Homo sapiens: one gene and its partners. The protein of the gene in region 2 purifies or fractionates together with the protein of the main gene of each other region. This does not show direct contact. Each region holds a gene or a part of one and is shown on either strand. Other genes may lie near its edges. The genes, in order: POM121, UNC5CL, NUMB and IGF1R.

Region 1 (7,031 bases), on a different chromosome or scaffold from region 2:
TTGTAACAATGTTAATTCCATCCAAAGTAATCAGTAGATGAAAGGCAATCCCAATCAGTATCTCAGAACTTTTTTTTTTTTTTGTGGAAATTGACAAGTTGATCTAAAAATTATATGAAAATGCAAAAGGCCAAGATACAAGACAGTCCTGAAGAGAAATGAGAAAGTGGGATGACTGACTCTATCAAGACTTAAAGTATAAGGCTAGGGGTAAAACAAAGACTGGCACAAGGGTAGGTAGAAAAATAGACCAATGGAACAAAACAGAGTCTAGAAATGGACCCACATATATACAGACACTTAAATTAGACAAAGACGGTGCTGCAGAGAAATAAGGATGGTCCTTTCAATAAATGTTGCTAAGAGAAATGGGTATTTCTACAGTAAAAAACAACAACAACAACAACAAAAACCACCAACACCACCAAACACAAAAAAAACTAATTTTGATTCCAACCTCACACCATATACAAAAATTAATTTCAGGTGGTTTATGGATTTACATATAAAAGTAATAATAAAATAATAAAGCTTCTAGAAGGTAGCACAGAAGAAAATTATCATGACCTTAGGTTAGGTAGGCAAAGATTTCCTGAATACTACACAAAGTATGCTAACCACAAGGAAGTAGAATGGCAAGAGCAGGACACTTTTTTGTTGCAACACATACATGACAGACAGCTTGTATCTAGAACATATAAAGAGCGTATTCAAATCTCTAAGAAAAAGACAACAACTTGGGGCCAGGTGTGGTGGCTCACGCCTGTAATCCCAGCACTTCGGGAGGCCAAGGCGGACGGATCACCTGAGGTCACGAGTTCGAGACCATCCTAGCCAACATGGTGAAAACCCATCTCTACTAAAAATACAAAAATTAGCCGGGCATGGTGGTGGGTGCCTGTAATCCCAGCTACTTGGGAGGCTGAGACTGGGGAATTGCTTGAACCCAGGAGGTGGAGGTTGCAGTGAGCCAAGGTCACAGCACTGCACTCCAGCCCGGGCGACAGTGCGAGACTCTGTCTCAAAAGAAAGAAAAAAAAAAAGACTGTACAGTAAAAAGTAAATTTCCTTTTTATCTCAGTAATGATTGCCAGTTTTTAATATATCCTGTAAGAATTATTTTATGCATATTAAAAGATTTTTAAAAGCCCGAATAATAGAGGATACTATACAGTTCTGAGCCTTGTTTTTATGTAATTGCTTTTTGAGATCATTCTCATGAGTACTTCTTCAGTTGCCTTATTCTTTTTCATAGTTACATAGTATATTCCAACTTACACCAATACTGTAAGTTATTCAGTCAGCTCCCTGAAAAGATAACATGTACATTGTTTCCAAGCTGCTATTATTAAAACAATGTTACATTAAATCCTTGTATCCATTTCCCAGTATGTGTGTAGGATAACTTCCTAAAGGTAAAGCTGCTTGATCAAAGGGTGCATGTATCTCTTATGTGGACAATTCCTGTCACAAAGCCCTCTAGAGAGCTGTACCAACTGACACTCCCACCAGCAACGCGTGAGGAGCCTGTTTCTTCTAACACTGCACTTCTATGGTTTCTATTTTACGTTCAAAACTTTGCTTCATTTGGAATAGGTTTCTCTACTATAGGAAAAACTCTTGAACATGAGATTTGGCTGGTAGCCCTTCAGAAAAATGGGTAAAGGATATGAACTAAGACTCATGGAAACAGAACTGAAAATAATCATTCAACATATGAACAGATGATCAAACTACTCATAAGAGACAAAAATTAGATACCTTTTTTTCTTTGAGACAGAATCTCACTCTGTCGTCCAGGCTGGAGGGCAGTGGCGTGAGCTCGGCTCACTTGACCTCTGCCTTTCAGGGTCAAGCAGTTCTCCTGCCTCAGCCTCCCAAGTAACTGGGATTACAGGCACACACGACCACGCCTGGCTAAATTTTTTGTATTTTTAGTAGCAACCGGTTTTTGCCACGTTGGCCAGGCTGGTCTCAAACTCCGGATTTCAGGTGATCCACCTGCCTCAGCCTCCCAAAGTGCTGGGATTACAGGTGTAAGCCACCAAGCTCGGCTGGCTTTTTTTTTTTTTTTGAGACAGAGTCTCACTCTGTCGCCCAGGCTGGAGTGGAGTGGCGCTATCTCTGCTCACTGCAACCCCTGCCTCCCAGGTTCCTGATATTCTCCTTCCTCAGCCTCCTGAGTAGCTGGGATTACAGGCATGTGCCACCATGCCCAGCTAATTTTTATGTTTTTAGTAGAGACAGGATTTCACCATGTTGGCTAGGATGATCTCGAACTCCTGACCTCCAGTGATCTGCCTTCCTCGGCCTCTCAAAGTGCTGGGATTACAGGCATGAGCTGCCACGCCTGTCTTAGATACTATTTTTAACCTGTGAAATTGGTAAAAGCCCAGAGCTACAATAACCAAATCTGCTGGTGAGGCCATGGAGAAATGGTCCCTCTCATACAACGCTGAGGGGAATGCTGAGTGGTGCATGCTCTGTAGGGGGATTTAACAATATCCAGCAAAATTACATGCGCATTTAACCTTTGACCTGGGAATCTGACTTCTAGGAACTTTCCAGAGGCAAAATTGCCAAGGATGAAATGACATATGAACAAATGTATTCTTTGCAGCATTATTTGTGATAGCAGAAGACTGAAACAACCCAACATTTGTCAACAGAGGACTAAAGTACCTATGCAGTTTTAAGACCAAAGATGAGTTTCTGTGTACTGCTATGGAATGACCTCAACTATCTATTATGTGAAAAAGCAAGGTTCAAATCTGTATATACTGTCTACTACCTTAAATGTTAGAAGGTGGCGGTTTTCAGATACACTGATATGCATACCGTTTAAAAAACAATAAAGGATAATCAAAAAATAAAAATGGAGAGGAAGGAAAAATGTAGAGTGGAAAGGGATGGAAACTGAATTTTTGAGTGTATCTTGTTTTAGTGTATTTTTTTTGAAACAACTTATTGTTTCAAAGATTTTACATAATTTAAAACAGAACTATTTCAAAAAGGAAAACACAGAAATCCCTGTAACTTTCAAACATACTGAACAAACGAACCTCACTGTATATAAAGTTGGTGTACCCAAAGGACAATTAACATTACTTTAAAACACGATATATTGATTACATGTCCGTAGCATTCACACAGGGATATAAAGACAAATGAATCACAATTCTTAAACTGACTTCAGCCGTCTTAATAATGACAGTGTTAACAATGACACTGATACCGCTATTTTGAAATTGCATGGGCCAGGCGTGGTGGCTCATGCCTGTAATCCCAGCACTTTGGGAGGCCAAGGTGGGTGGATCACCTGAGGTCACGAGTTCGATGCCAGCCTGGCCAACATGGTGAAATCTCGTCTCTACTAAAAATACAAAAATTAGCTGGGCATGGTGGCGGGCACCTATAGTCTCAACTACTTGGGAGGCTGAGGCAGGAGAATCGCTTGAACTCAGGAAGCGGAGATTGCAGTGAGTCAAGGTCGCACCACTGTGCTCCAGCCTGGGCGACAAGAGTAAGACTCCGGCAAAAAAAAAAAAAAAGAAATTGCGTGTTACTAGGATCAAAGTAATTATAAACCGACATTTTTGGTGTAATACATAAAAATATAAAATCAAATAAATTACATAAAAAATCCTACTATCATAAATTTGAATTTGGAATATTATGAATTATTTATATTCCCCTTTCTAGAGGATCTGTCTATCTTATCTCTCCTAAAACTTAGACTGTAGTCTCTACAGTTCTAACTGGAAGAAACCAAAGCTTTCTGAAGAAACACCCAACTTCGGTATAGGCTAAAAATGGACTTTGGGAAGGTGGGCAAAAAGCAATGAAGCTATCTGTCGAAGACTGCTGGGATCAAAATAAAGGATACAGGAGCCAGTTTGGAACCCATAGTCCAAAGCTGGAAAAGTTTGCATATCAAAAATAATAACTAGATATTAAATAATATTAATTATCCCTCTTAAATTATTAAGAGGGATAATGATATTACGGTCATTAATGTTCATTTATATGACTGTCAGAGCCTTCTGGGCTGATGAACTCGTCTCAAAATCTTCCTCCTCTCAAAAACATTTCTCCATACATGCTTTACATCTTTTTGTCTGGCTGCTGTATACTGGGTACCCACTTACTGACAGCCACTGTAATAGGTGCTTTTTAAATATTACCCTCAATCACTGCAACAGCACTTCAGAGATAAGAAAAAGAGATGTTATGTGATTGTCTGCCCAAGACCTTATAGCTACTAGATGTCAGAGCCAAGCATTTTTTTCCTTTTCTTTGAGACACAGTCTTGCTCTGTTGCACAGGCTAGTCTTGAACTCCTGGACTCAAGAGGTTCTCCCACCTTGACCTCCCAAAGTGATGGGATTACAGGCATGAGCCATCCCGCCCAGCCTCAGAGCCAAGATTTGAATCTAAGTCTGTCCAGCAGCAAAGCCTGCCCTGTTCCCTATACTATGCGATAATCCCTTTTCCAAAAAATCATGACCACTTGTTTAAAAACCCCGCTTTCAATTCTAAACGCCTATAAGATAAATCTCTTTTACGACCCAATACAAGCTGGACTCAGTCTACCTTTCGAATCACCCTCTGTCCGTTTATCTACAACACAGCTCTGTCTCGAATCAGCTCGCACACATGCACTGCTGTACATTCTGGGCTTTCTACTCCATTCCGCTGGCCTATATTGATCACTCAATGATCTGTATTTTCTATTAGCTTAAAGACAATTCTAATGTCTGACAGATAGAAGGTGATCAGTAAACCTTTGCTAATCAATTACTTTATTTAAAAAATTTTCTTTAAAAATTCTTTTGTACAGACAAGGTTTCACTATATTGCCCAGGCTGGTTTTGAACTCCTGGGCTCAAGCAATCCTCCCGCTTTGGCCTTCCAAAGTGCTGGGATTACATGGCTAAGCTACCATGTCTGGCCCTAGTCAATGAATGAACGCTGGGAATTCATGTCCCCCACATTAAAAGAGCTGTACTTGTACCTGTGAGATGCCTCGAGTGGAGCTGTAGGAACTGGTAATGGCATTGCGGCTGGAGCTAGGGATGCCACTTGCGTAAGCGCCTGTCAAGGAGCTCATGGAAGAGCTTCGGGATCTCTTATTCAAGTGGTCATCTGAGCTCTGAGAATTGAGGCCTCTCTTCAGAGACCCAGGCCTAATAAAAGAGAAGACAGTTAGATGCTTTATTGAAGGCAAAATTCTTTTACGATTTCATCCACGGTCATGACATCTTTCTTAATAACATGAAGGGAAGAGAATAATGCTTTTAATTTTTACTGCTAACAATCTGGCCAAATCTATCTGACAAAGTCAGTAAGAAAAGCCAAATATTTAAAACTTAAATGTATGATTTCCATTTATAGAATATTCTGGAAAATGCATACCTATCTACAGTGACAGAAGACAGATCAGTGGATGCCTGGGAACAGGGGTGGAAGTAAAGAGAGGGATTACAGGCATGTGGGAACTTTTGGAGGTGAAGGATGTTCATTATCTTAGTGGTGGGATGGTTCCACAGGTGTATGTGTGTCAAAATGTCACATGCTTTAAACAAGTACGGTCTATTTTATGTCAATTATATCTCAACAAAGCTATTAAAAAAAAATCAGAGTTAAGAGGAACCCATCATTTTACTAAACCTCCAATGGAAACAGAAATCTCCTACGCATCTTTTCTGTAGGACAGTCATCCAACCTGTTACAATATAGACAACTCTCTCCTAGAGTGACCCACGTCAACCATGAACCAGTTTATTCTTACAGTGGATTACAGTGTATTTCCTCTTTCACCCACGGATCCTATTTGAAGTCAAACAGAGCAAGTTATTTTGCTTCTTTCAAGGGACAGTCCTTTGGTTTTTTGGAGACCATTGTCCTTCCCTCACTTATTTCTTTATTCCCCCTGAGACTTTTCTCCTCTGGGCTAATACTTCCATACCTCCAAAACCCCAACATCCACCACCACCCCTTTGGGCTGTTGCAAATCTCCTTAACATCTTCATTGCTTCACTGGGAATGAATTTCCGTTTGTGTACATCCTCCCTCGCAGTGCAGTACACTGATCTGACCACAGTGCTCCACGGACAGTGAGCAGAACTACGGAAGGCAGGAATACCATCCACCTGCCTCATTCTAGTCTTTCTTCTAACAGCACAGACCAGGAGCACTTTAGCTTTCCTGGCGGCCACATCACACTGCTGACTCAGATGAGGTACCTAAGGTATCCTAAGTCTTTCCACACATACTTTTGAGCCACTTTCCTTTCCACCCAATTCTTCCTCCAATTTGTTTTTAAACTGACATGTAGAAATTTAACATTTAGGTTTCATACTGTTTTATCCACTGCACAAACTTTGCAATCCTTCTGTGTATGTGCTTGGTTATTAAATATATTTATAAAACCTCTTAAGTCTCAGCATATTTCATCCATATTAATGCAAGAACATTAAAAGGAATTAGACAGAAGGCAGTTAACTGTGGCAAGTTACTCAAAACGTTCCTAATTTCAAAGACGTGAACCTGAACCAATTAAGCAATGCAAAAAACAAAGAGGAAAATCTATAGGGCAACAGCTCTGATCAGGCCTTTTTCCAAACAGTTGGTATTTCATCCGGATGGACTCCCACTTACTTAGGCACAAAAGAAGCGGGGACTCCATTGGCCACCAGGGGCTCAAATGCTGAATGTCCACTGCCACTGCTATCATGGCGCCTGCGACAAATCAAAAAAGTCTCAATGAAATGACATGACTTTTTTTGTCCCTTTAAAGTGTATTCTCATATTTCTGGGACCTTATACTATCTCTATGGAGCACAGATTCCATGATAGACCAGAAAATGGTTGTTTAAAATCCCTAAGCTTCTGAAAGGTAAATTTTTTTTTTTTCAGACAGAGTTTCGCTCTTGTTGCCCAGGCTGGAGTGCAATAGCACGATCTTGGCTCACTGCAACAAACCTCTGCCTCCTGGGTTCAAGCGATTCTCCTGCCTCAGCCTCCAGAGT
Region 2 (7,031 bases):
TCTCATAATTTTATATCGATTACCTGTTGAAATAACATTTTGAATATATTGGGTTAAATAAAATGTATTAATTTCTCCTGTTCTTTTTAATGTGGCCATCAGGAAATTTAAAATTACATGTGTAGTTCACATTACATTTTTATTGTACACCACTGCTCCAGACCTTTCTCTATACCTTTACATTTCCATATATGCACCCATAAATATGTATCTATTTATATGCAGTTTTGTTTTTCACATTAATGAGCTCAGAATATTTTATCTCTCTGCGACTTGCTTTTTCCACTTATAGATTTTTTTGTATCAGCACTTGTAGATCAAGGTAGATATTTGGACAGATGAGGAAACTGAGGTACATTAAGCAGTATTGAGGCAGGAGGTGGGATTTGATTCCAGGCCAGATAGAAAACTGGCTGAAACAGGGAAAAGGCACCAAAAGCACCTCTCCATAAGACATGCCCACCAGTGCCATGACAGTTTACCACTGCCATGGCGATGCCTGGAAGTTACTGCCCCTTTCCATGGCAGTGACCCGAAGCTACCACTCCTTTTTCTAGAAATTTCTGAATAACCCACCCCTTACTGCATGTAATTAAAAGTGGACATAAATATGATGGCAGAAATGCCCCAGAGCTGCTACCCTGGGCACACTGCCTAGGGTTAGCTCTGCTCTGTAAGGAGCATACCTCTGCTGCTGCTATACTCTGCCACTTTAGTGAAAGTTGCTGTCTGACACCACTGGCTCACCCTTGAATTCTTGCCTAGGTGAAGCCACAAACCCTCCCAAACTAAGCCCCAATTTTGGGGCTCTCCTGCCTTACATCAATATGATAAGTTTACCCAGCCACAGTGACCAAGGTGACATTTGAACTCATGTTCTCTAACTGTAAACCCAAGCTCACTCTGCTTCAGAACAGTTTACCTTGATGTATTAGGTCACGGGGAGCCAGGGTAGGTTCTCGAGTAAGAGAGACAGGTTAAAAGAATTGGTGTGACTAAAGTGTGCAGTGTGCGCTGGAATGAAGACAACTTGCAGCTATGTGTAAGCCAAGCCTTGACCTCCACAACTTAAAAGGGCTTACCCTGACACTGACCCCTTCTTCCCCACCAGGCCTTTGGCTTTGGCTGGCACAGGGGTGAAGGAGAGCCAGCGGCATTGAGTAACCAGGCGAATGTGCCCCCAGGAGAGTTCATTCCAACCCTCCCAGTTCCTACTGCTGGTGGGGGTCCCAGTGGCAAGTGTCCTCCTTCTGGCCCAATGCCTTCGATGGCACTGCCCTAGAAGGCTGCTGGGGGCCTGCTGGACACTGAATGGTCAAGAGGAACCAGTGTCCCAGCCTACCCCCCAACTAGAAAATGAGGTCTCAAGGCAGCACCTGCCAGCCACACTGCCAGAGATGGTTGCCTTCTACCAGGAGCTACACACACCCACTCAAGGCCAGACCATGGTCCGCCAGTTGATGCACAAACTGTTGGTGTTTTCGGCTCGAGAGGTGGATCACCGCGGCGGTTGCCTGATGCTCCAGGATACAGGCATCTCCTTGCTCATCCCACCAGGTAACAGCTCCTGGCTCTCATCTCCGCATACAGTTGGTCAGACTGTACATTAGGTCACCACATCTGAGGGAGCAATGTTCATAGACACCTTTTACTTCTGATAATTGTTTATATTTTGAGTATAGCTTTATTGACTTCAGGGATGGACATATTACATATCTTTTGGGACAACTTCCTGGCAGGTGGAAGTAAAGTGCCTTGTTCTAATGAATCAGTATGCTGTGACAATTCTCTAGTAAAGGGAGGGAAGAGCACCATTTGCAAATTCACACAAGGCACACTATGGGCTAGCAGCAGCCTGGGTGGAAAGGGAAGTGTCTTGCTTAGGGTTACACTACAAGTCAGCTCCACAGTCGTCTTACTCTTGTTCATACCACTTCCCTGTGTGCCCTGCTGGGGGTCTCTCCTGGGCTCCTGCCCCACCTCCTTTCTCTCTGGCCTGGCCTCTTTCAGGGGCAGGGGTGTGCCTGCCTACCAGGCCCATCTCAGCTCTCCCTCTCCCTGCCAGGTGCTGTGGCTGTGGGCCGCCAGGAGCGGGTGTCTTTGATCCTGGTGTGGGACCTGTCGGACGCCCCATCGCTGTCCCAAGCCCAGGGGCTGGTAAGCCCTGTGGTGGCATGTGGCCCCCATGGGGCCTCCTTCCTGAAGCCTTGCACTCTCACGTTCAAACACTGTGCCGAGCAGCCCAGCCATGCTCGCACCTACAGCAGCAACACTACCCTGCTGGATGCCAAGGTATGGAGGCCCCTGGGGCGGCCGGGGGCCCACGCCTCCCGGGATGAGTGTCGCATCCACCTCTCCCACTTCAGGTAGGCACATGCCATTGGCCTGTCTTCCCACACCCATCTCTCTGAGGACTGTCTTTCCTGCCCACTTTCTCTGTCTGCCTTATCTTCATCTCTCTGTATAGAAGATGGTCTGCAAATCCTTTATCCCCTGGTGTCTCTTTCTGGCCCCTCTGTCCTAATGTTTGTAGCAGTTTTTCTCACATCAATCATGTCCATGACTGCAAATCCCATTGCTGTCTCTCTGTCTGTCTGGAAGTGTCTGACTCAGCACCATCTCTCCATCTAAGAGGGACCTGTCTTTCCCATCTCTCTCTGTCTTTCAAATTATCTCTCTCTACACTGTGCCCCTTTCAGGACTGTCCCCAGGCTTAGCACCAGTTCTCTAAGACTCCATTCCATCTCTGTCCTTCTTCTCTTTGTCTTTCTAGAGTCCTAGGTCCTCTGCCTCCCAGCCTCCTTGCCACCCATTGACAGGAATAGGGCCATGTGCGGGTGCCCTCCCAAGCATGGTCACCCTGAGCCCACTTTCCCTCTCTCCCCTGCCAGCTCTCCTCCCCATTCAGTCACCAGTCACTGTGACATGCTCACTTTTCATCCCCAACCTACCAGTTCCTCCCTAAGTGCTCCCCTCGAGTGTTCTCTGAACCTCCTTGAAGGCCCCACAGAGGCCCCTCAGGTGGCAGGAGGCTGGTGGCAGTGTGTTGGTGTCTTAGCCTTCCCTGCACATTAGTGCCTGCCACTGGCTCCCTCTGCAGCCTCTACACCTGTGTGCTGGAGGCACCTGTGGGGCGCGAAGCCCGCAAATGGCTGCAGCTGGCCGTATTCTGCTCACCGCTGGTGCCAGGACAGTCCCATCTGCAACTGCGTATCTACTTCCTCAACAACACGCCCTGCGCCCTGCAGTGGGCACTGACCAACGAGCAGCCCCATGGTGGGCGCCTGCGTGGGCCCTGCCAGCTCTTCGACTTCAATGGGGCTAGGGGCGACCAGTGCCTGAAGCTCACGTACATCTCAGAGGGTGAGGGAGGCAGTGGCCTGTGGGATAGGATGATCGGGAGCCCCACAGGAATGAAGGGTTCTGGGCCTCCCCTGGACATCTGGAGATCTGGGGATCCCAAGTCTCTCTCTCTTTTTTTTTCCCGAGATGGAGTTTCGCTCTGTTGCCCAGGCCGGAGTGCAGTGGCTTGATCTTGGCTCACAGCAACCTCCGCCTCCTGGGTTCAAGTTATTCTCCTGCCTCAGTCTCCTGAGTAGCTGCAATTACAGGTGCCCACCACCATGCCTGGCTAATTTTTTTGTATTTTTGGTAGAGACGGGGTTTCATCATGTTGTCCAGGCTGGTCTCGAACCCCTGACCTCAAGTAATCTACCCGTCTCGGCCTCTGAAAGTGTTGGGATTATAGGTGTGAGCCACCACACCAGGCCCCAAGTCTGTTTGTGACCTCTGGGCCAGCAGTAGCCTCATGGAGCCCCCAGGGCTTTGACCACTCTGCTGTCTACTGAGCCCTTGCCACTCACTCCTTGGACAGGGTGATGCCAGGTGGCAGGTGGGAAGGAGAGGGGTTATACCCCACAGAAGCAGGAAAGGATGGAAGGCTTTTATAGTGCAAGGGCCCTCTTGGGGTCCCAGCCCAGGCTCTGGGGATTCCCATTCCCTTGAGACCCTCCTGCCTTTGTTCTGTCCTCATGCCTCCCCACAGCCCCCTTCAATACTTGTTTAAGGCCCCACTCTCTGAGGCCCTCTGCTGTCTGCCTACTCACCAGGTTGGGAGAATGTGGATGACAGCAGTTGCCAGCTGGTTCCCCATCTCCACATCTGGCATGGAAAGTGCCCCTTCCGCTCCTTCTGCTTCCGGAGAAAAGCAGGTAGTCCGGGAGCCCTGTGTGTACCTCCTCCCCTCTCTTTTCCCATCCTGTCTCCTCTCCTTCCCTCCCAGTAACCCTGGAGCTCTGCAGACCCCCATGCAGCCATGCACACAGACCTTCCCTGAAAGGCCAGGAGCCACACAGATCTTTGCAGAGAGAAAAATGGAGTGTTGGACCCCAGCTTCCTCAGATTTCCCAAGTCTTACTATAGAGTCCCTTACCTTCTCCTGCTCTTACCCCAGGCCGTTTCCTCACTCACTGGCCACGCTGTCACCTTCTCTTTATAGCCGATGAGAATGAGGACTGTTCAGCACTAACCAATGAGATCATTGTCACCATGCACACCTTCCAGGATGTGAGTTGGAGCTGAGGGGCAGAGGAAGGGCAGGGCCTGGGGGAAATCCTAGGCAAAGTGGGCACAGGGTCTGGTGCCCAGTAACTATGGTCTTAATCACATAGGTAAAGATGGCACTTTCCATAGAGCCCCCATACCAGCTCTTTGAGGGGCTGAGATCATCTGGGCTCCAAGTTACCCTCATCCCTGACTCTCCTTGTCTATCGGTGGATGAATCCAGCAGGAAGCTAAAAGAACCAAACCCTAGTTTAACCCCTTCTCCCAACTCAGAGAACTGGGGCATCAAGTTGATATGGTTTCTTTCTAGGCTGATTGTCTACATTTGAGAGATGATGTTTGGTATCTTCAGTGTGGGATTTGAGAGATGATGTTTTGTATTTTCAGTGTGGGAAGTGACCAGGAAGAGGGTCTTGAGTAGGCAGGCTGGGAGTTAGGTATCTCTCCTCTCCTGCTGCACCAAGGGAAGATGCGAAGAAATCGGAGTTGAGAGTCTTTGGGGAACCATAGTGGCACCTTAGTGGAGGGCAGGCAGATACCCTGTTGTCACTTGGAGAAGAGGAAGGGAAGGTTGGAATGGAGGAAGGTACACATATGGCTGAGATCAGTGTCTCTATGGTTGGATGACCTCCCACTGCTCCACGGCCCCACCCAGGACTTCCCCTGGTGGCTCAGGCTGCACTCTGGTCTTCATGTCCCAGTTCCCAAAGAGCTCAGGGGCAAACATAAGGCTGAAGGTGCGGTTCTGAAGTCACAGGGAGACAGTGGGTAGAGGGTGCTGGGTGGAGCAGGGTTGTATCTCCTGGTAAGGTGGCTCTGAGTGACAGACTGAAGGAGAGACATGAGGAATGGAGGTAGGACTCCAGCTTCTTACTCAGGGGGATGGCTTGTGACCCCTAAGTGTGTTCCCTGCCCTGTGTTGACTCAGGGCTTGGAGACCAAGTATATGGAAATCCTCAGATTCCAGGCATCAGAGGAGGAATCCTGGGCAGCGCCACCACCTGTTTCCCAGCCGCCCCCATGCAATAGGTGAGACGGGGGTTGCTTGGGCTGCTGCCTGGGGGATGTTGGGTTCCTACCCTGGCACCCACAGGGTGACTACAGCATTTAGGGTGCATATGGGAGAACCAGAGTGGGTCTGTTTGTCCCTTTCTTCCAAGAACACCCTTTTCCCTGCCTAAGGCTGCCCCCAGAGCTCTTTGAGCAGCTGCGGATGTTATTGGAGCCAAACAGCATCACCGGCAATGACTGGCGCAGACTGGCCTCCCACCTGGGGCTTTGCGGCATGAAGATCCGGTAGGAAGAGGGGTGAGGTCTGTGGATGGTAGAGGAGGGTGGGCTGGAATGGGGTTCCTCAGGACACTCTGGAGACTGGATCACAGGCAAGGGAGTGACTTAAAAGTCAGAGAATGGCTACTGTCCACCCTATTTCCCATAAAAGGGCAGCTCTATTAATCACTGTATCATCAGTACCTAGAATGATGCCTGGTGCATAGTAGGTGCTCAATTAACATTTAACAGTGAATCCATTAACATGGAAGTTATTTGGTACATGTTGAGTGCTTGCCATGCTATGCCCTGAGGAGGAGCAAGACAGATTATAGGATAATGTGTGTAAAGCATGTAGCTGGGTGCCTGACACTTGTTAATTCAATAAATGTTATCAATAATGGTGACAGTGCAGTCATGATCCCTGTCAAGGAACTCAGAAAGCAGGAGAATACTGAGCTAAGCTCCAGAAACTACACTATGAGTGCAGCGGTCAGGGAAGACTTTATCCTGGTGATGGGGCTAGAGCTGGACCCTGAAAACAGGGTGGATTTTTATTTATTATTATTATCATTATTTGAGACGGAGTCTTGCTCTGTCGCCCAGGCTGGAGTGCAATGGCGCAATCTTGGCTCACTGCAACCTCCATCTCCCGGGTTCAAGTAATTCTCCTGCCTCAGCCTCCCGAGTAGCTGGGATTACAGGCACACGCCACCATGTCCAGCTAATTTTTTATTTTTAGTACAGACGGGGTTTCACCAGGTTGGCCAGGCTGGTCTGCAAACTACAGGGTGGATTTTTAAATCATTCATTTAAACATTTATCAAGTACCTATTATGCCCTGGAAACTGTGCTAAGCACTATGATACAAGATGAATGAGGCATGGTCCCGGCGCCTAGGAGCGCACACACTAGTAAAGGGTTCAGAGAGCTTGAAAAATAAAGGCAAGTGTTCCTTGTGCCTTCCTGTAAGAATCCAGTATTGTATAACACATTGAAGAGAGACAGAAAACAGCTGAAGCAAGAATAATAATGAACTGCGGGCGTTATGACCAGAAGTCTGAACTGAGGGATGCAGAATGTTCTCTTCCACCTGGGAGGGGTGAACTAGAAAGGGCTTCAGGGAGGAAGTGATGGGGAAGAGATCAGCCATTTTGTTTTGGGGAGTAGCAGAGGTGGCTGTGGGTGTAGTGTGTGCA
Region 3 (7,031 bases), on a different chromosome or scaffold from region 2:
CAATCACGCACCACCACACCTGGCTAATTTTTGTATTTTTAGTAGAGATGGGGTTTTGCTATGTTGGGCAGGCTGGTCTCCAACTCCTGGCCTCAAGTGGTCTACCCAATTCAGCCTCCCAAAGTGCTGGGATTACAGGCATGAGCCACCACACTCGGCCCAAATGTCTGTTTTTATGAAAGCAAGATGTTGCAAATTCCAGCTTAAAATTGTTTTAATAGATTAGTATGCCATATTAATTTAAATGAATAAATTTTCTAAGGTAGTGCTTATGATGGTTCAATTCACTGTTACAAGCCTTGGGGTAAAGTGATAACCAGCAACCTGTGCTTTTGTAAGCAGCCATGGAGAACTCTTTATCACTTAGGCTCTGTCATGTCAGCCCTGGCCAACAGCTTAGAAGACTCTATGCAAGGTTTCAAGCCTTGACATGCAAGCTTCTAGTTGCCCTTTGGGGAAGCAGTGGGAATATTTACCAGCCACTTCTAAGAAACTACTGGAAAGGCAAGGCAAATTTCAGGAGCTTAATGCACTGTTAATATGTCTAGGAAAAAAAGGTGCAAACTTAAAACTTCTGATAAACAAATATAATTCCAGTGATTAAAAAGGAATGAGGCTGGGCATGGTGGCTCACATCTGTAATCCCAGCACTTTGGGAGGCTGAGATGGGCAAATTGCTTGAGCCCAGGAGTTTGAGACCAGCCTGGATAACACAGTGAGACTCTGTCTCTACCAAAATAATAAAAAAAATTAGGCCAGGTGCGATGGCTCACACCTGTAATCCCAGCACTTTGGGAGGCTGAGATGGGTGGATCATGAGGTCAGGAGCTCGAGACCAGCCTGCCCAACGTGGCGAAACCCCGTCTCTACTAAAAATACAAAAATTAGCCGGATGTGGTGGCGGGTGCCTGTAATCCCAGCTACTTGAGAGGCTGAGACAGGAGAATTGCTTGAAGTCGGGAAGTAGAGGTTGCTGTGAGCTGAGATGGCGCCATTGCACTCCAGCCTGGGCAACAAGAGCAAAACTCCGTCTCAAAAAATAAATAAAAATCAAAATAAAGGCCGGGCACAGTGGCTCATGCCTATAATCCCAGCACTTTGGGAGGCTGAGGTGGGCGGATCACCTGAGGTCAGGAGTTCAAGACCAGCCTGACCAACATGGAGAAACCCTGTCTCTACTAAAAATACAAAATTAGCCAGGCATGATGGCGCATGCCTGTAATCCCAGCTACTCGGGAGGCTGAGGCAGGAGAATCACTTGAACCCAGGAGGTGGAGGTTGCAGTAAGCCACGATCGTGCCATTGCACTCCAGCCTGGGCAACAAGAGCAAAACTCCGTCTCAAAAAAAATAATAATTAAAAAAAAAGAAAAAGAAAAAATTAGTCGAGTGTGGTGGTGGTGTGTGTCTGTGGTCCTACTTGGGAGGTGGGAGGATCACTTAAGCCTACAGTAAGCTCTAATTGTGCCACTGCACTCCAGCCTGGGTGACATAATGAGACCCTGTCTCAAAAAACAAACAAACAAACAAAACTAACAATGAGACAAAAGCTTTGCTGTCTCCCCTTTCTGAATCCCCCCTCTAAGCAACCCTCCTCATTTATGGCCCTCCGTGCTTTTAGGTTTTCCCCCATACCCTTCCTATCTTCCTCTAGCTCTAATTCCCAACTCTACCTCCCAACCAAACACAGGCAAAAGTGAAAGCATGTTTTCATCCACACTGTCTACTTATAAAAGAATTAAGCAGATAAAACTGGTTTGTGTATGGGAGGAGTGGAGGACGTATATAAACAAAACACTGCTTTATATAGATACACTGGATTACCCAGAGTCAATTTAATAAATTCAATGGATGATTTTTAGCAGGGTTATCTGTATTTTAGACCATTTTGCTAATTGTGGAATAAAAAAGCTAGAGATGGTACAATAATTGTTGGCATCATTCACAGTGAGAAGAGATATTTGGGAACAGGAAGTCTTTTGTGGTGTTCTCAAAATCACATCACGTAGGCAGCTGCTCCTACACACGGCTCTGAACAAGTCGTCTCACTGGATTTTGCATGACAGTATTAGTTATCATAAGGACAGGTAAGGTTTAAAATGCTTTATGTCCCTAAGATTTTACTACCTTTGACTACTTTTTAAAAATTTTTAAACTTTTTAAAAAAACTTTTGACTACTTATTTAAAGACTGATAGAATTACTCTATGAATCCACATGAGTTTCCATCTAACTTCCCAGTAGGATGACATTAGGCCAGATGTTAAAGCATGAAACAGGAGTACTGAAAGATTCTTAGAATGTGTTTGCATTTGAACGCAGGTCTATTATAAGGACAGAGCTACAGGTCAAGGAAGCTTGCTTATTCTTTCTCCTAGGCCTAGGGCAGAAGTTGTTGAAGAGTGACCTCATCCCCAACCAACAGCATCATCTGGGAACATTTAAGTGCAAATTCTTAAGTACCAACCCCAAACTCACTGAATGAAAAACGCTGGAGATGGGGCCCAGCAATCTATGTTTTAAAACAAGTCCTCCAGGTGATTTTGATACAGTAGAACTATTGGCCTAGGAGATTCAAACAGGCTGCCGGGCCACTATTTGACAACAAAATGGTTTTTAAGTTATTATCTGGAAACTCTTGAACTCCAGATTTTTAAAGTGTAGTGATAGCAAAATATACCCAGTTTGTGGTTTACTTAGGGTCTGAGAAACAGAAGACAAAAGCACAGTTTTGTTACTTCAACTCATTTCAAAGCACCTGTGTCAAACCAATGAAGGACAGCTTACACAATATTCGCTAAAATTTTTGGAGTAATGTGGCCCAGAACCTATGCTAAGTGTGCTTATAATCTTTATCCAATTTAGTATTCACAACCACTTTCTCCATTTATAGAAGTGTATACCAAGACAGAGAATGTTAAGTAACTTGCCCCAAATCCCACAGCTAGTAAGAACCAGAATCAGAACTGAAACCCATATCTGACTCAGAGCCTGAGCTCTTAGCATTTGTTTACACCAATGTCTCAAAGATCTTTAAACAATTTTGGTCAATTTTTAGACCATGGCCACTACTTATCTTCCAGATTAAACGTTGGCAAGAGCTTTACTGACCTGTAACCTTCACGAATGGCTATACTGCCTATTCTGTCTCGACACTTGCTGTACATACAGTTTGAGTATCTCTTTTCTGAAATGCTTGGGACCAGAAGTGTTTCTGATTTTAGATTTTTTTCAGATTTTGGAATATTTGCATTATACTTAACAAGCTGACATCCCAAATCCGAAAAGCCAAAATCCAAAATGCTCCAATGAGTATTTCTGTTGAGTGTCATGTCGGTGCTCAAAAAGTTTAGAATTTTGGAGCATTTCAGATTTTCGGATTTGAAATGCTCAACTTATAGTAAAATCATTGTCATTTAAAAGAGACTTGTCTTTCATGTTAAAATGCTGGGTAATTTACATAAAGAATGAAATTATTCTCTATTTTAAAACAAAACTTCTATCATGCAACAATTTCTAGCGTTGTTCATTCTACCGTAACTTAGTATTTCTGTTTAGTTTTTGTTTTTTGTTTTTTTTTTTTGAGATGGAGTCTTGCTTTGTCACCTAGGCTGCAGTGCAGTGGTGCAATCTTGACTCACTGCAACCTCTGCCTCCTGGGTTCAAGCGATTCTCGTGCCTCAGCCTCCTGAATAACTGGGATTACAAGCACCCGCCACCACAGCCGGCTAATTTTTGTATTTTTAGTAGAGACAGGGTTTCATCATGTTGGCCAGGCTGGTCTCCAACTCCTGACCTCAAGTGATCTGCCCACCTCAACCTCCCAAAGTGCTAGGATTACAGGCGTGAGCCACCGTGCCTGGCCTATTTTTGTTTTATTTTTGAGACGGAGTCTTACTGTCGTCCAGGCTGGAGTGCAGTGGTGCAATCTTGGCTCACTGCAACCTCTGCCTCCGAGTTCAAGCGATTCTCCTGAGTCAGTCTCCCAAGTAGCTGGGATCACAGGCATGCGCCACCACACCTGGCTAACTTTTGCATTTTTAGTAGAGACAGGGTTTCACCATGTTGGCCAGACTGGTCTTGAACTCTTGACCTCAGGTGATCTGCCTACCTCGGCCTCCCAAAGTGCTGGGATTACAGGTGTGAGCCACCATGCCCGGCCAGTATTTCTTTTTTCTTTTTTTTTTGGCCAGAGTCTTGCTCTGTCACCCAGGATGGAGTCAGTGGCACAAATCTCAGCTCACTGCAACCTCTACCTCCTGGGTTCAAGCGATTCTTCTGCCTCAGCCTCCCGAGTAGCTGGGACTACAGGCATGCACCACCACGCCCAGCTAATTTTTTTGTATTTTTAGTAGAGACGGGGTTTCACCATATTGGCCAGGCTGGTCTTGAACTCCTGACCTCGTGATCCGCCTGCCTCGGCCTCCTAAAGTGCTGGGATTACAGGTGTGAACCACCGTGCCTGGCCGGTATTTCTGTTTTTATAATAGTTGAAAGTATACTCCAACTCAGTTTTGTTTTTTTGTTTTGTTCTGTTTTTGGAGACAAGGTCTCACTCTGTCACCCAGGCTGGAGTGTAATGGCACGATGACTCACTGTAGCCTCCAACACCTACGCTCAAGTGTTCTGCTCGCCTCAGCCTCCCAAGGCATGTAGAATGTAGCTAGGACTACATGCATGTGCCACCATGCCTGGCTAATTTTTTCTTTAACTTTGTAAAGATGAGGTCTTGCCATGTAACCCAGGTTAGTTTCCAACTTGTGGTCTCAAGTGATCTTCCTGCCCTGGCCAAAGTGCTGGGATTATAGGGGTGAGCCATCAGGCCCAGCCAACTTCTTTCATTTGTAGTAGTCTCTATGCAAATACATTTTTAATACCATACTCATATATGTTAGCCAACAAATACATTTAAGAACCCTGAAAATACTTCCAATAATTAAAAGTTTCAAATAAAGTTTAGCAACCACTATCACCAGACCATTTTTACCTTCCTTTAATGATCTTTGGTTTCAGCCAATCATTTTGTTCAGTGAGTTGCAACTCCTGGGGTTACATCAAGAGTGTGAACTATTTGAATAAAAGGAGCTGAAAGTAGGCTAGTTTAGGCACTTCCAAGTACTTGTTAAAAATGTAGTAGAAACCGCTTGGCTGAGCAAACCCAGAAAGAGCCCAGCTAACTGAGAATACTCATCATGAAATACATATTTGCTGGACTCACTGTGTCCTTGACAGCCATGAAGCAGTGACAGATCCAGCGACGAGTGGTGCCATCACGGCATATGTAAGAAAAGGCTCTATCAAAGTTCCTGTCTGGGGCACAGAAAGAAACTTTCTCTATCGTCTGGTCAACTATGAGGTCCTAGAAAATACGACACACAAAGAAAGAGAAGACTTATGAGGTTATCTGAGCTTCTCAGAACACAGGATGTTCATTTCATGATGCACAATCCATACATCTGATACAACTAGGCTATGGAATACCTAGATCTGTGTCCAGCAGTTTAAATACTGAGAATTGGACTCAGCAGACATCCCAAGAGGCACTTTGCCCAGATACCTCTCTCAACTACATGTTCTAAAGCATATGCTTGTTGATTCTAGTTTTACATCTCTTTCATGGTAGATTCCACATTCAACAATATATGTAAATCAGTATCTTTAATCCTTTGGATAAAAAAAAAATCCTTTGGGTTTATTCCCAAATATAAGCAAATACATATAATAGTCATGTTTATGCTAACTTCGTTACACAATGAACACTACACACACATACACACAGTTCTGCACCTTGCTTTTTTACATTATATATACCCGATCCAGTGAAGTTACTTCAGATACTGTATTTTTCAGGTGTGGAATTTCCACTCGTTTCTTTTTCTTTTTTTTTTTTTTTTTTTGGACAGTCTCACTCTGTCACCCAGGCTGGAGTGCAGTGGCGCGATCTTGGCTCACTGCAACCTCTGCCTCCCGGGTTCAAGCAATTCTCCTGCCTCAGCCTCCCAAGCAGCTGGGACTACAGGCGTGTGCCACCACGCCCGGCTAATTTTTTTGTATTTTTAGTAGAGACAGGTTTCACTGTGTTAGCCAGGACGGTCTCAATCTCCTGACCTCATGATCCACCTGCCTTGGCCTCCCAAAGTGCTGGGATTACAGGCACGAGCCACCGTGCCCAGCCATTTGTTTCTTTTTCATAGTTTCTATTCTCTGCCAAGATTTCTATCTCTTCATTCAACATGAACATATTTCCTTTCTGTCACTGAGTATAGTTATAATGCCTTCTATACACTGTTTTCATTTCTGTTAAGGTAGCAGTCTACTTCAGTGTACCATTTTCTGTACTAGTTGTGGTGATGCTATAAACACAAAACAATACAATGACTCAAATACAAGAGACATTTATTTCTTGGTCAAATAGTGAAGGCGGGCATTTAAAATCTGTCTGCTAATTCCAACATCTGAGTCATCTTGAAGTTAGGTCTTTATTGATTGTTATTTTGATGAGAATAAGTCAGACTTGTCTGTTTTGTTGTATGCTGAGTAACTGCATTGTAGTCATTGTGAATGTTGTATGTGGAAAGAATGGATTCCGTTACATTCCTTGGAAGTGTCATATTTTTGGTTTTATCAGGTAGCTAATTTGATTATACTCAAATGGAAAACTCTTATCTTTTGAACAGCACCTCAGACATCAGGGCGTTTTTGTTCTTTTTTTGAGACTGTCTTGCTCCGTCATCCAGGCTGGAGTGCAGTGGCGCAATCACTGCTCACTGTAACCTCAACTCCAGGGCTCAAGCATCCTCCCGCCTCAGCCTCCCGAGGAGCTAGGACTACAGGTGCATGTCACCATACGTAGGTAATCAAATATCAGTTTTTATATCCTTAGTTGGGCTATTTGGAGTCTGCCTTGAATCTACATGGCTAAAAGGGTCAGAGATTTGGGCAGAATTTATGAACAGAATTTGGGACTACTCCTTTTTGGCTTACTCATTTCCAGGATTCTCTTTTTACTTTCTTTTTTTGAGATAGTCTTGCT
Region 4 (5,523 bases), on a different chromosome or scaffold from region 2:
TCACTGAGCAGCAGCTAGAAAGTAACTAGGACTTTGGAGCTCCTCCAGTGACCCACATTCTGCGTGAGGCCCACTGGGTTCTCACCAGCATCCCCCCGAGGTGGGCATGTCAGCTGTGAAAGACCAAAAAGCACATGGGAAATGTGAAGAACTGAAGTCCTCTGCCTTGGGGTCATGCAGATCAGACTTGCCTTGGCCTGACTGTTGTTAGTGGAAGGTATAGGAAAAAAGTCTACAAATCAGTCGGAACTGCAGTACAGAGTTTCGTAATTTATGTATTCAAATTTCTTTCCAGATGATTTAATGGAGGGAGAAACAGATAGCTTCCCTGTCGTCTTTACTGGCAATCTGCATGCTGAGAAAGCTCAGCTGTCAGAGAAGAGGCAATGCTTTTCTGGAGAACGCTTCCAGGCAACATGCGTGAACACACGTGCCCCACATAGCTCAGCTTCCCTGCCACCAAAGTGTAGTGATGCTTCCAGGAGGGACAAAACCAAACCAGAGACAGAAATGCATACAGAATTATTTTATTTAACTTAAACCATGTAGTACTTTACTAGAAAAAAGCAGAGTAAGAGAAACTAACGTTGCCTTAGCTTCAGCCATTCAAAATAGACAGTTTCTTTTTTCCATTATGTAAAGAATCCAGAGTATATCGCAATAACAGGAATAAATTCTTACAACAGAATATACAAAAACATTTTGAAATTTTTTTCATCTACTGATTTTTTATATAAACAGGATTTTTTAGGAATAATTTATACACAGAAAGTCATTTTATGTAACAAATTGGCCATGTTATTACCTTTTTTTTTCTTACTTAAAAAAATTTTTTTTTAACAAGAAAACTCAGAAAATGCATTATTTGCGGTGCATCCATTCCATCCCGCCTTCTGGTTTGATTTTTTTTATCCCAGACAAAGGGATACCCAGAGGTAGACAAACTCTGGCAAACCTCTCACCTCAACCTCACTGGCTTAGAAAGCAGACAGGTGTTTTCACCGGGCGTCTCTTCCACCGGTGGATGTGTGTGTGCAACGCCAAACATCCAAATGAAAAGTTGAAAACAAAACCCAAATAGTTTCCAGATCTTTCTCCTATGTAGCGCAAAAACCCCAGGTGTTTCCCATGATAGAGATATTGTGGAGTTGGGGAGACATGGCCAACAATCCACTGGAGTTAGAGGAAGTGGAGTCAACTTTAAAACCAATTTTTGTGTATGTTATAGTTTTTATTAAAAATTCTTTTCTGTATTGGAAATACGTATCTTCGGGGTTCTGCCTTAAATAAAATAGGGTCTCTTCTGTGTTCTAACAAAGCAGTAATCAGTCATGATACGAGGCATGTAAGCAAATGGCCTGTGTGCCCCATAGCTGTCATCGTTTATGTGATCACTGTGTATGCTGTAATCATCATGAAAACCATTGGCTGTGCAGTCAAGTCTTCCCATGTCCATGGCACTGTGCTGACAATGACGGCAGCCAGACCAATCAAGCCAGATGCCGAACGGTGCCATGCACTGCTGGGCTCCAACACCTCGGCTGTTTCCATGGCCAATGAGGTTCTTTCCATCTGTTAAAGTAGCTACACTCCAAAGGGAAATGACCAGTAAAAAATGATCCCCTTCCCAACCAGAGGGTTCTGGAAGACCAAGATACTGAAGATACAGAACTACTTTTTAAATCATCATCATTCCTTTGTTATAAACTAGGGCAAAAAGCATGGGGGGAAAAGAGGGTGAACCACGGATGGGGTCAGGGAGAAATCCTTTTTTGGCATATTGTAAAGCTAGCTAGTAAACAGGTGTCCTAAAAAAAAAAAAAAAAAATGGATCACAAACACACATTTGCACACACAGAGAAAAAAAAAGTGTCTTTAAATTATTTTCGGCAATTATAAACTACAAACATTTTATAAAATTATTCTGTTCTTACAAAAATGCAATGAAACATTTAATTAGTTCTTGTAAACCAGATCTTCGTCAACTGACTACCCGTAATCTACTGGACTTAAGAGCCCTATTGAAAACGCTAATGAGTGACTAGTTAAAACAATGTTGACCAGAAAGATGCGGACACACACACGTGGGACATAAAAATGAGTGATCGTTATGTTCTCGCAGAAACAAAACGCTAAAGTCATGCCCCAGAACTGACAACTGACGAGTGCGATGTAGTTTGTGTTCTTGAACAATTCGCCTTAACTCCGAGATCAGTTTCCAGAGTAGGATGTTAGGTTTCTTTGTTGAAACCAAATGCCCACGGATGACTGCTGAGCCTCGATGTGGTCTGATAGCTTCAAGAACAATCAAGTTCAAAACCTTGCCCACATTCCTTCCAAGCCCTGCACCCTGCTGCTCGTAACTCTTCTCTGTGCCAGGATCCCTGTGACAATGGTTCTGTACCCACCACCCGGTCATTCCACCATCAAGGAGCACTCACTTCTCCAAATGACGCAACCAGTCATCTAAGATGAAGGCCAAAAATGAAACCCTCTGACCTGTCCAAGGTCTGTATCTTCAGCATCTCTGGCAACAGAGGTTCAGTCTAAATAACATCCTCTCTTGAAGTTCTCATTTGTACCACCAGCTACTTCAGAGTGAAGAAAGAAAGTGTCTTTCGCCACTGGTTCTTAAGGAGTGGATCTCTGGTCCACATCTCCCAATGCTGCTTAGCCCAGGAAATGAAGACAGCTGACAACACAGAGGAACATTAACGAAAAGAACAAACCCCAAACTTGAAATGCATAACTGGGACTGCTGGAATGGGCCAAGGCATACCACGGCGGGTCACTGTCACCAGGAGGGCGCCTGTGTTTTAGAAGGGAGTGGCCAACACCGTCTGGCCACCCTGGAAGGAGCCAACGTGACAGCTAAGAACACTAGACAAGCATCCTAGCCTTCTCACCCATCGATCTCAGTGTGATCTTGCCACAGAGCCACTGGCAAGCCATTCGGCTGCCAGCCTGCAGAGGTGGACTGCTGTGGGAAAAGCTTCAGTGGAACAAACTGGCCTAGAATCTGGTGCCAGAGAATAGTTGGCTCATAAATCTTTTATCCCAAAGCACCCCAATGTGCACCGAGCATCTCGCCATTTGGTAGTTCCACAGTGACTGCTCTTCTATTTTACGAAGCCACTTTTCGTACCATTGAAATGTGACTCCGCATCTTAAGAAACAGGCCAGGAGAGGCCAGGTCGGCCACGAACACGGTCTTCCATCTTCCAAGGAGGAGGCTCGTTCCAAAGGTATGTCAAACGTCATGACATCCCACGAAGGAGACCTGGGGTGGTCTGGGTCTTGATCAAGTTCAACAGTGTCTCCAGTACACACCAGCTCCTGCTGCCTCAGGGAAGGGCTGTGTGGGAGAACGTCTTAATGCTCACATCAATTCCATGATGTGCCTCAGTGGTTCATATGACTTCAAGCAGTGTGAGCTGCTGGCAGAAGGAGGTTGCATGGAAAATGCCACAACTCAGCTTAAGATTATTTGGAACACACAGAGAAAAATCAAGAGGCAGAGAAATCAGCATGAAGTTAGGCTAGAACTGTGGATAGATGATGCCTTGGTATAGTCAAGGTGGGTGGGTTGGTCCAGTAAAGTGACTGCACCATCACACAAGCCAAGTTTTCTCTTTTATTGAGGTGTTTCTGAAGCATTTGCTATGATGGGCACTACACTGTTAGTGTTTTCTACTTAAAAGCTACCTACATAAAACAAAAACAAAATGACATCAGTAACTCGGACAGTTTAAACAAAACCCTTATAACCAGCTGAATGATCTGTAGAAATCCAGTTGTGGAAACCGGTAGGTATGTGCACGAGAGGAGAGGCCGTTATTCCAAGGGGTCACCTACAGTGTGGAAGAACAAAACCCTGATCCAACAGTATTTCTCAATGACCTTAAGATCCCCGGGGTCCTGGGAGAGATGGGTCGCGTTCCAGCAGGAGGCTCCTGAGCGCCTTCACTTAGGCTGGAATTGCCGAGGAGCCATCCACGCTTAGGCAAAGCTGCCCGCCACACTTCCCAGCGAAATCATCAGTGCCTGTAAGAGCAGCTGCTGGAAGAGGGGAGCGAGCCGTCTGTCCTGTGAGCAGCAGGACCAGGGAGACGGAGGTACAGCCCTGGCGGGGGGGGCGTGACGCCACGAGCCTCGGCGCCGGCCACTGGGCTTTCCAGCCGGAAGGTTTGGTACATCTCTGTCTACCCCTAGGGAAGGAGGTGAGGGAGAAGTTGAGAGGGCAGCCTGGAGGGGGAGGGGACTCTGCTCCTGCGTGTGTTCTATCAGGGACTGGCTGTGAGGTCAGGAGCCTCTGCATTCTGGCGCACAGGCTGGGTGACTCTTGCTCTCCAGCTGCTGCTGCAGCTGCACCTTTGTGCTCAATGAATGCAGCAGCCATGGCCGCACGGTCCTGCCTCAGCGCGAGCCTCCTGCAGGGATGGAGCAGCAGCAAGGGGAGCAAACCCAATGCCCCACGCCTTTACCCTGGGGATTCGCACAGAGATGGTGCTGCCTGGACACCTTCCTCTCCTCAGAACCTGAGGAACCACTGCTCTCTTAAGGACGAAATGTGTTGGTCATTCCATCTGCACAGAAGCAGTTTGTTCCAAAGACAACCAGCCAGGGACAGCCTGGTGGCTCCCCCAGGTGTGCTCTGGTGCCCTCGTTGGCCTCACAGGGCCACCTGGCTAGGAGGAGGAGAAATCTAACACCTTGGTGGAAACCAAGATAGAAAACAAAACAAAAAAAGCAACACAAAACAGGACATCTCAGAAAAAGGCAAGCTGTCTGAAATGAGCAGAGAGGTGAGTTAGTGTTGCTTTGACCCCGGAATACAGCCTGGCTTCCCCCTGCATCACCTGGGTGTGGCGCCTGTGGCGTGGATGAGGTTACCAGTATCAACGGCCTATTGTCAGGTGCTGAGAAAGGTGAGATGTATTCTTTTGTCTATATACACATATAAAAAATAAGAGTGAGGTAGATAAATGTTTGGGGGAAAAAAAACCCAAAAAATCAAGAACTGTCCCATCACTCTCACACACACACACCCCACACATACACACACACACACCCTTTCCTTGAAATTTAAATTCATAATGGGGCTTTTCTACAGTGATTGAAACTGGTAATTTATCACAAAATAAATTAAAAGAAAACTCCTACATATAATACCTTTTTTTTTTTTTTAAAGGGAACACGCTATGGGATAGAGACTAGAGAAAGCAGTGGGACAAACTGCTGACCAGCAAAAAAGCCGTATAAACTTTCTTTTCTGTGTTGAATCTTCAGTCACAACTAGCAATCACCGTATCCCAGCTTTGTTCTTACTCCTAAACATTTCTATCCCAGAAGCAACTCTTGTGCTGTCATCTCTCTGGTGAGAAGTGCTAAAAATGAAACAAGACAAGACCCCTGGGCCCCAAGGACCTGGATTCCTGGCCGAGGGAAAGTGGGCCAGCACCACAGCCCTGGTCCCCCAGCAAGAAGCAAAGGGGCTCTTGGGCCACCGTGGCGTCTGTGCTG

The links.
Region 1: the proteins of UNC5CL (region 2) and POM121 purify together in Homo sapiens (affinity purification with mass spectrometry; 2 studies listed by BioGRID and IntAct, with this or other methods). This does not show direct contact.
Region 3: the proteins of UNC5CL (region 2) and NUMB purify together in Homo sapiens (affinity purification with mass spectrometry; 2 studies listed by BioGRID and IntAct, with this or other methods). This does not show direct contact.
Region 4: the proteins of UNC5CL (region 2) and IGF1R purify together in Homo sapiens (affinity purification with mass spectrometry; 2 studies listed by BioGRID and IntAct, with this or other methods). This does not show direct contact.

What each region holds. Positions count from the first base shown.
Region 1 is NC_000007.14:72,928,095-72,935,125, reverse strand, and holds part of POM121 (nuclear envelope pore membrane protein POM 121), read right to left. Parts: intron 6,742-7,031; coding exon 6,661-6,741; intron 5,187-6,660; coding exon 5,015-5,186; intron 1-5,014. UniProt on the Homo sapiens protein: Essential component of the nuclear pore complex (NPC). The repeat-containing domain may be involved in anchoring components of the pore complex to the pore membrane. When overexpressed in cells induces the formation of cytoplasmic annulate lamellae (AL).
Region 2 is NC_000006.12:41,029,216-41,036,246, reverse strand, and holds part of UNC5CL (UNC5C-like protein), read left to right. Parts: intron 1-1,111; 5' UTR 1,112-1,172; coding exon 1,173-1,557; intron 1,558-2,065; coding exon 2,066-2,366; intron 2,367-3,100; coding exon 3,101-3,363; intron 3,364-4,109; coding exon 4,110-4,211; intron 4,212-4,498; coding exon 4,499-4,566; intron 4,567-5,491; coding exon 5,492-5,592; intron 5,593-5,745; coding exon 5,746-5,859; intron 5,860-7,031.
Region 3 is NC_000014.9:73,287,518-73,294,548, forward strand, and holds part of NUMB (protein numb homolog), read right to left. Parts: intron 5,358-7,031; coding exon 5,217-5,357; intron 1-5,216. UniProt on the Homo sapiens protein: Regulates clathrin-mediated receptor endocytosis. Plays a role in the process of neurogenesis.
Region 4 is NC_000015.10:98,959,519-98,965,041, reverse strand, and holds the end of IGF1R (insulin-like growth factor 1 receptor isoform 1 precursor), read right to left. Parts: 3' UTR 512-5,523; downstream 1-511. UniProt on the Homo sapiens protein: Receptor tyrosine kinase which mediates actions of insulin-like growth factor 1 (IGF1). Binds IGF1 with high affinity and IGF2 and insulin (INS) with a lower affinity. The activated IGF1R is involved in cell growth and survival control.